2 linked regions of the Homo sapiens genome follow. The protein of the gene in region 2 purifies or fractionates together with the protein of the main gene of each other region. This does not show direct contact. Each region holds a gene or a part of one and is shown on either strand. Other genes may lie near its edges.

The links.
Region 1: the proteins of GPA33 (region 2) and DNAJC11 purify together in Homo sapiens (affinity purification with mass spectrometry; one large-scale study listed by BioGRID and IntAct). This does not show direct contact.

The regions. Positions count from the first base shown.
Region 1 is NC_000001.11:6,653,111-6,656,942, forward strand, and holds part of DNAJC11 (dnaJ homolog subfamily C member 11), read right to left. Parts: intron 930-3,832; coding exon 801-929; intron 1-800.
Region 2 is NC_000001.11:167,055,727-167,059,558, reverse strand, and holds part of GPA33 (cell surface A33 antigen precursor), read left to right. Parts: intron 1-1,131; exon of another isoform or gene 1,132-1,252; intron 1,253-3,709; coding exon 3,710-3,829; intron 3,830-3,832. UniProt on the Homo sapiens protein: May play a role in cell-cell recognition and signaling.

The sequences.
Region 1 (3,832 bases), about 160 Mb from region 2:
TCTTCCGCTTTGTTATTTGGTCTGCATGTGACCACGAGGGTAATATGCTTTGCAAAAGCTTTAATGGGCACATTTCACAACACCAGGGGAAACATGGGGCTGCATGTCCCAATGGTATCAGATAGCACAGTGACTTCACTGTGTGCCTTCCCTCTGTGGTTTGCCATCAGGGTTCCAGGGGGACTGAAGACCTTCCCATGGCTGTATTCTGTATCAACTGACTCAGGGAGCTCCAAGAGGGGGCAAATTTCCCCAAGTTAGGACTCCACGTTGTTGGCTGATGCAATGGAGAATAAATTAATGAGCTGAGGAGACAAAGACCTACTATAAACGCTCAGGAGAATGACCTGACCTCGTCACATCCAAATAGTGGGCAGAATGGTGACATTTTCGCGTGCCCAGGGCTCAGGATGAGAGCTGCTATAGCCTTGCGGCACCTAGCAGAATTTGCCTTAAAACTAAAACTGGTTGTTAGAATGATCCATGGAGGTCTGCTTTCTCTCCCAGAACCCCATGACCTTGGGCCTCTACTTCTCCCAGACCATTAACACCCTCTGCTGGAAAGGCCCAAGACCTTGGGAGCCAAGTGCCCCAGCCCACACTCCTGCTGGCTCACATGCCAGCACAGCGGTAACACACGGCTGGGAATGAAGCGCTTTCTTTTTTAAGTGGCTAATTGCATCCTTTCATAAATAAAGATGAGAAAAACCCTGGGCAGACTCTCATTCCAGCTGCTTGGTGTGCTGTGCCTCATTAACTCGAGCCCTTGCTGTACTCGGAGAGGTGGTTGTGTGCTTTACCTCAATGGACTGGGATATGTGCATTTTATTAATTTCAATCTGCGGAAAGCTACTGCCGGACACATCTTCATACTCCTCATCATAGCGATCAAAAAGGTCGGTGGCATCTACTCCAACGCTGATCGTTCCCTGGGGCAGAAAAACAAGCCGTCAGCAGAACGGGTGGTATTTGTGGAATGAAAGACAATGCTACACTTCAACAGCCAGCTCGCTTTAATTGAACAAGTCATTTGACTTCAGGGTTCACTGGGTTTAGGTAGGACACTCCACCAGGAAGCCCACAAAGCATGAATGTCACAGTCCGAACCAAACTGCAGAGCACCACAGACGTCCAGAGCTAGAAAACATCATTTGACCAGGAGAGCCGGTCCGCATGTCTGCAGAGCAATGACACGCCAAAGACAAAAGTGTTAGTCAAAGGAGTAAGAGCTAGACAGTTTGATTTTCAGAGACCAAACAGGACCCAAGAATGCACAAAACCACCTAGAAATGAGCTACATGGATTAAACATTTTTTGGTAAACAACCTTATACCACAAAACTACCCTAAAACTCTTTAAATAAAAATACCTTCAAAGATAAAGCAGCACAAATTATGAACAAATGGGAGACTTTAAAATTAATCCACCTTCTCAAATTAATGAGAATTAAGTTTGAGAAACAGAACACTGTATTTGCTCAAGGAATTCTAAGCTAAAATTTTGCTGATAAAAATGCTTGTTACTCAGAAAATCAATGTTTATTATTCTTTGATAGTCACAACTTTAAAAACGGACATTATCTTAATCCAGTATATAAAACCATGGCCACACACATTTTTTTAACTAAACTTTTTGCAGCCCATTGAAACAATGTTTTTTTGCTAGCTTTTCTTTTTTTTTTTTTTTTGAGATGGAGTCTCGCTCTGTCACCAGGCAACATTAGCCATTAGTCCAGTGCAGTGCAGTGGCACGATCTTGGCTCACTGCAACCTCCGCCTCCTGGGTTCAAGCGATTCTCCTGCCTTAGTCTCCCGAGTAGCTGGGACTACAGGCGCACGCCACCATGCCCAGTTAATTTTTGTATTTTTAGTAGAGACAGGGTTTCACCATGTTGACCAGGATGGTCTCGATCTCTTGACCTCATGATCCACTCGCCTCGGCCTCCCAAAGTGCTGAGATTACAGGTGTGAGCCACCGCGCCCAGCTGGTGCTAGCTTTCTATCAGATGCTTCAATCTGAAAATGCATTAACCCTAATAATTACTTGATTTCTGTTGAGGGTGAAACACCTGACATTATGAATGCTACTATAAACTCAATCAAAAAGTTCCACATTAAAGGTAAACGTGTTTGTTTTTGCGGTGATATTCAAATACCAACTTGGAGGCAGTATAGTGTTATGGTAAAAAATTTTCTTATTAAATCAAGAAACCCATGGACTAGAAACATCCTTAGAATTAGTTGTAGTGATACGCATAATGCATAATTGTGTCAAAACAAGCTGTGGTATTCTACCCATGGAAAATGAAGTTGTAGTTGCCAAAATTTACAAATTTTTTATATTCACAGAGTAACAGCATGAACACATCTCTGTCATGATGATGATTCTGAATAATCAACAAAACTGCATGGCAGTATATGAACAATCTGTGGCCAGGTGTGGTGGCTAATACCCGTAATCCCAACACTTTGGGAGGCTGAGGGAGTGGGATCACCTGAGGTCAGGAGTTCGAGACCAGCCTGGCCAACGTGGTAGAAACCCTGTTGCTACTAAAAATACAAAAATTAGCCAGGTACACGTCCCAGCTACTCTAGAGGCTGAGGCAGGAGAACTGCTTGAACCTGAAAGGTGGAGGTTTCAGTGAGCCAAGATTGCGCCACTGCACTCCAGCATGGGTGACAGAGCAAGACTCTGTCTCAAAAACAAGAACAGGCCGGGTGTGGTGGCTCATGCCTGTAATCCCAGCACTTTGGGAGGCCGAGGCAGGCGGCTCACGAAGTCAGGAGTTTGAGACCAACATGACCAACATGGTGAAACCCCATCTCTACTAAAAATACAAAAATTAGCCGGGCGTGGTGGTGCGCACCTATAATCCCAGCTCCTCAGGAGGCTGAGGCAGGAGAATTGCTTCAACTTGTGAGGCAGAGGTTGCAGTGAGCCAAGATTGTGCCACTGCACTCCAGCCTGGGCAACAGAACAAGACTCCGTCTAAAAAAAAAAAAAAAAAAAAAATTACAATCACTGAAAATAAAGCTTGTAATGAAAAATAATCTGAAGCTGATCTTTTTAGGGGGAAAAAAACCATACAAAATAAATAAGAGTTTATGAGATATAATGAGATACAATTTTGAAATTCCATAACGGCATTTTGGAGTATCTTTATTTTGTGTAGGAATCTTGGTGGAGCTGTCATGTTTAATTAGGTAAATTTATATTCTGTTCAAGAATGAAATGGAATTGAAAAGGTCTACAGTTTTATAGCATCTAAATTTGATAAAACATTCAAAAGATCATAAATAAAGATGATTTAGAAAAATGTGTCAAAGAAAACTGTTGTGAATAAAGTTAAAAAGACAATACCTGTCAAAATACTTGGGCCAAGATATTTTTATGTTCTAATATGAAGAAATTTAGAATTGAGAGAATATTTTCTAAATTAAAAATATGATATACAGAGATGAATCAATTAAATGTGTCAAAAATTTCAGCTGAGTGCTGTGGCTCACTCCTGCAATCCCAGTACTTTGGGAGGCTGAGGTGGAGGGATTGCTTGAGCCCAGGAGTTCGAGACCAGCCTAGGCAACATGTTGAGACTCTGTCTCCACAAAAAAAACTAAAACCAAAAAAAAAAAAAAAAAGTTTAGCTGGGAGTGGTGGTATCCGCCTGTGGTCCCAGTCACCTAGGAGACTGGGAGGATTCCACTGGGAGGTGGGAGGATTCCTTGAGCCCAGGAGGCCAAGGCTGCAGTGAGCTGTGACTGTATCACTGCACTCTAGCCTGGGTGATAGTATGAGACCCTATCTCAAAGTAAAATATAACTTGCTAAATATA
Region 2 (3,832 bases):
GAGGATCGTGAGGGCCCTTTGTGAGAGAGAGGTGGCAGCAGGGGCTTGTCGACAAGCTACAGGATTGGGTAGGGGTTGGGGGGATGCGGAAACGTTAGGTCTTGTCAACGTGACATTAGCGTCTTGGTGAGACAGGAGGTTCTCTTGAGGGGAATCTCTCCACAGCTGGAGCAGAGGAAGGTGGGAAGCGTATGACCGTCCTGTGCATTCCCCTTTCTGACCACAAGGTGTCGCCACTGCAGCGGAAACATTAGTTTTCTCCGGATATCAGAAATTACTAGTCCCTTTCCGAAGGAAAAGGGGCTTGGGAGCCCCAACTCGGAATCAAAGAAGGTCCTGTGGCACAAGACCTGCACTGGTTCATCCCAGCAGCTTCCAGTGCACACGGTTTGCATCAGGGAACTGGGGGAGGATAGCGCTGACTCATTGGACTAGGAAACCCCATGTTCCCCACCCTAAACAAGGCCTAGAGCTCAAAGCTGGACTCTGACAACTAAAAAAGTCCTGACTGTCTGCAGTGTGCTGCCTACACTAAATCCAGAGTCCGAGCTTCACACTCTTAAGTGGTGGGGATCTGTTATGAGCTCTAGACCTCCTAAGTATGCCCAGGGCCATAGAGCATTTCCTAAAGTGTGTTCCTTCAAGATGCCTCTTAAAAATAACAAATCCGATTCATTTAGCAAATGAGAGCATGAATACCACACCCCGCTGTCAGAAGTTCCCAGTGCTCAACAGCATTGTAGGAGCTCTGAAAGTGCTGCCCTTAGAAAGATTACTTAATCCTAACTCAGTGATTCCTAAACTTGCTTTTTTAGGGACTCCTTCTCCATGCCGCATGTTAATATCACATGTAAACAATGTTCCAGAAAACATACTGAGGCGTGGAATTCTAGGATAGAAGGGGACACATTTTATGAAGAATGAGCATCCAGAGAGTAGTGTCCTGGGGGTCAAGGGAAGAATTTGAAGAAAGTACAAGTGAAAAGACTGAAAGAAAATAGCACCAAATCAAAGTGTTATTTATAGGTGATGGAATTATGAATGATTTTTATTTGTTCTCTCTTCTTTAAAGAGGCATTCCTTGGCCCTTTGGATGAGATTAAAACCCCTTGCCATAAGCTCAGATAGTACCTCCATCTTGAACTGTAACCATCATTGTTTCATGTCTGTCTTCTTTGGGAGACTGGAAACACCAAGAGGACAGGGACCCTCCTCATCTCGTTTATAGCTGTGATCAGCAGCTAAAGATTTTCTGTATTGAATTGAATTGAAATAATAGTTTTATATCATTTATAAATTATTATAAGGAGCATACATTGCTTTTATCATACAAAATTTTATTTTTATACATATTTTTTTCGAGATGGAATCTCGCTTTGTTACTCAGGCTGGAGTGCAGTGGTGCGATCTCAGCTCACTGTAACCTCCACCACCCAGGTTCAAGCGATTCTTTTGCCTCAGCCTCCCAAGTACCTGGGACTAGAGGCGCACACCACCATGCCCGGCTAATTTTTATATTTGTAGTAGAGACGGGGTTTCACTGTGTTAGTCAGGCTGGTCTCGAACTCCTGACCTCAAGTGATCTGCCCGCCTTGGCCTCCCAAGGTGCTGGGATTACAGGCGTGAGCCAATGTACCCGGCCACAAATTTTTAAAAGAAAATTATCAATGGCTCCAGGGAGTTCTAGACCTGAAACAGGATTTTTGTTCCTGTTTTATAATTTCTTAATTTTGTGACCTTGAGCAGTTCACTTAACTTCTTTAAGCCTCCAGTTAACTCCATGAATTGGAGATTGAAATATTGAGGATTGCTGGAAGGATGAAAGGACATCACATTTGAGGATGTGTACTGAGCAGCACATCCGGAGAAGGAAAATCTTGAGATGCAATCTTGCAGGAAAGTGACGGTGGGGCGGAGAGAGGACAACTCCCCTGGTTTTGCCCCTAGCACCAAGTGGCAAGAGGCAAAGCTGGTATGATTGACAGGGCCAGATCTGTGACCTGAAGCTTGGACTTGTTACTGAGGATTACGTCTAGTGGTTGCTGGGCAGCCCCTGAAATGTCTGAACAGAGCAGTGACAGGATCGTATTTACAATTTAGAGCGTCTCTTAGGGATGGCGTGTAACCACCTGGTGGCAGCAGGGATCAGGCAAGGCTGGCTCTGCAGCAAAATTAGAGGAGGTAGGTCTCCAGCTCCTCTCAAAATAGCAGTTATAACAAAGCATCTTGGATGGCAGGACATATACATATGCCCAAGCACAAAGCTCTTGCTTTCAAGATGAAGAAATTCATAGGATGATAGATTGAGGGGAAAGGTCTTCCATGAGATATTCTGGTCCGTTCTCTTCGATTCAGGAGGATCAGGTGTTTTCACTCCTGCTTTCCGAAGGAAGCCTACAGCTCAAAGAAGTTAAATGGCTTGCTCAAGTGGCGGCAGATGTAGAGGAAGAGTCTAGACAGTCTGCCTCCGTCCCACCCCAACAGCACACACATTCACCACCCCCCATACCACACACACTACACATGCAACACACACCACACATCACACACCACACACATTACACCCACCACACACCACACATCACACACTGCACACCACACATACTACACACGCCACACACACCACACACAGTACACACCACACACACCACATGCAGCACACACACTACACACACCACACACACCACACACCACACACACACCACACACATTACACACTCACCACACACACTACAAACGCTGCCACATACACACCACACCACACGCACCACACTACACATGCCACACACACCACACACACGCCATACACACACCACACACACCACATACATCACACACTACACACACACTACACACACCACACACCCACCACACACCAGACACATCACACACTCACCGTACCACACACACTACACACACCACACACATCACACACTCACCACACACACTACACACACCACATACACACATACCACACATATGCCACACACACCACATACCATACACACACTACTCTCACAGAGCACAGCACACACACGCTGCACATCACTGACACACCACACACCACACACACTGACACACCACACACACTGACACACCACACACACCACATAACACACAGACACACACACACACATACACCCCACACACCTCTCTCATGGCAGAAATCCAGAGATCAGAGTTTTTGATTTCCAAAGGCTTCTTTCATATGAGTCTAAGCTAAGAGATTTGGTTTCTGAAGATCATAAAAGTAATAATATCTTCTGATTAGAAAGCATTTTCATGTAATACATAATGTGCATTATGTTTCCTGAGCACTTACTACATATCAGGCATTCTGTTGTGGGCTTATATTTATTATTAGTACCTCATTTTATGCTTGCAAGTACCCTGTGAGGCAGGTACTATTATTTCTGATTTTAGATGAGGAAATGGAGGTTGAATGAAGCTGAGTTACTTGCTAAAGACAAATTAATAAGTGGCAGAGCCAGGTGTCAAACCCAGGGTGCCTGACTGAATTCTGAGCACTTCACATTGTGGGCCCTGCCTGGTTTAAGCGTCCTGCAGCCCTGGAGGTGGACATGGGGCTCCGGCCTGAAGAAGCTCAGTGGCAGAGGTTGTGCTTCCCAAGGAGTCCAGACCTCCCATTCCTGGCTGTCTCCACTCCACTGTAGTGCCTCTCTTCACCCTGACTCTTCTTCCCCTGCAGCCTCAGGTCAGCCTGTCTCCCTGAAGAATATCTCCACAGACACATCGGGTTACTACATCTGTACCTCCAGCAATGAGGAGGGGACGCAGTTCTGCAACATCACGGTGGCCGTCAGATCTCGTA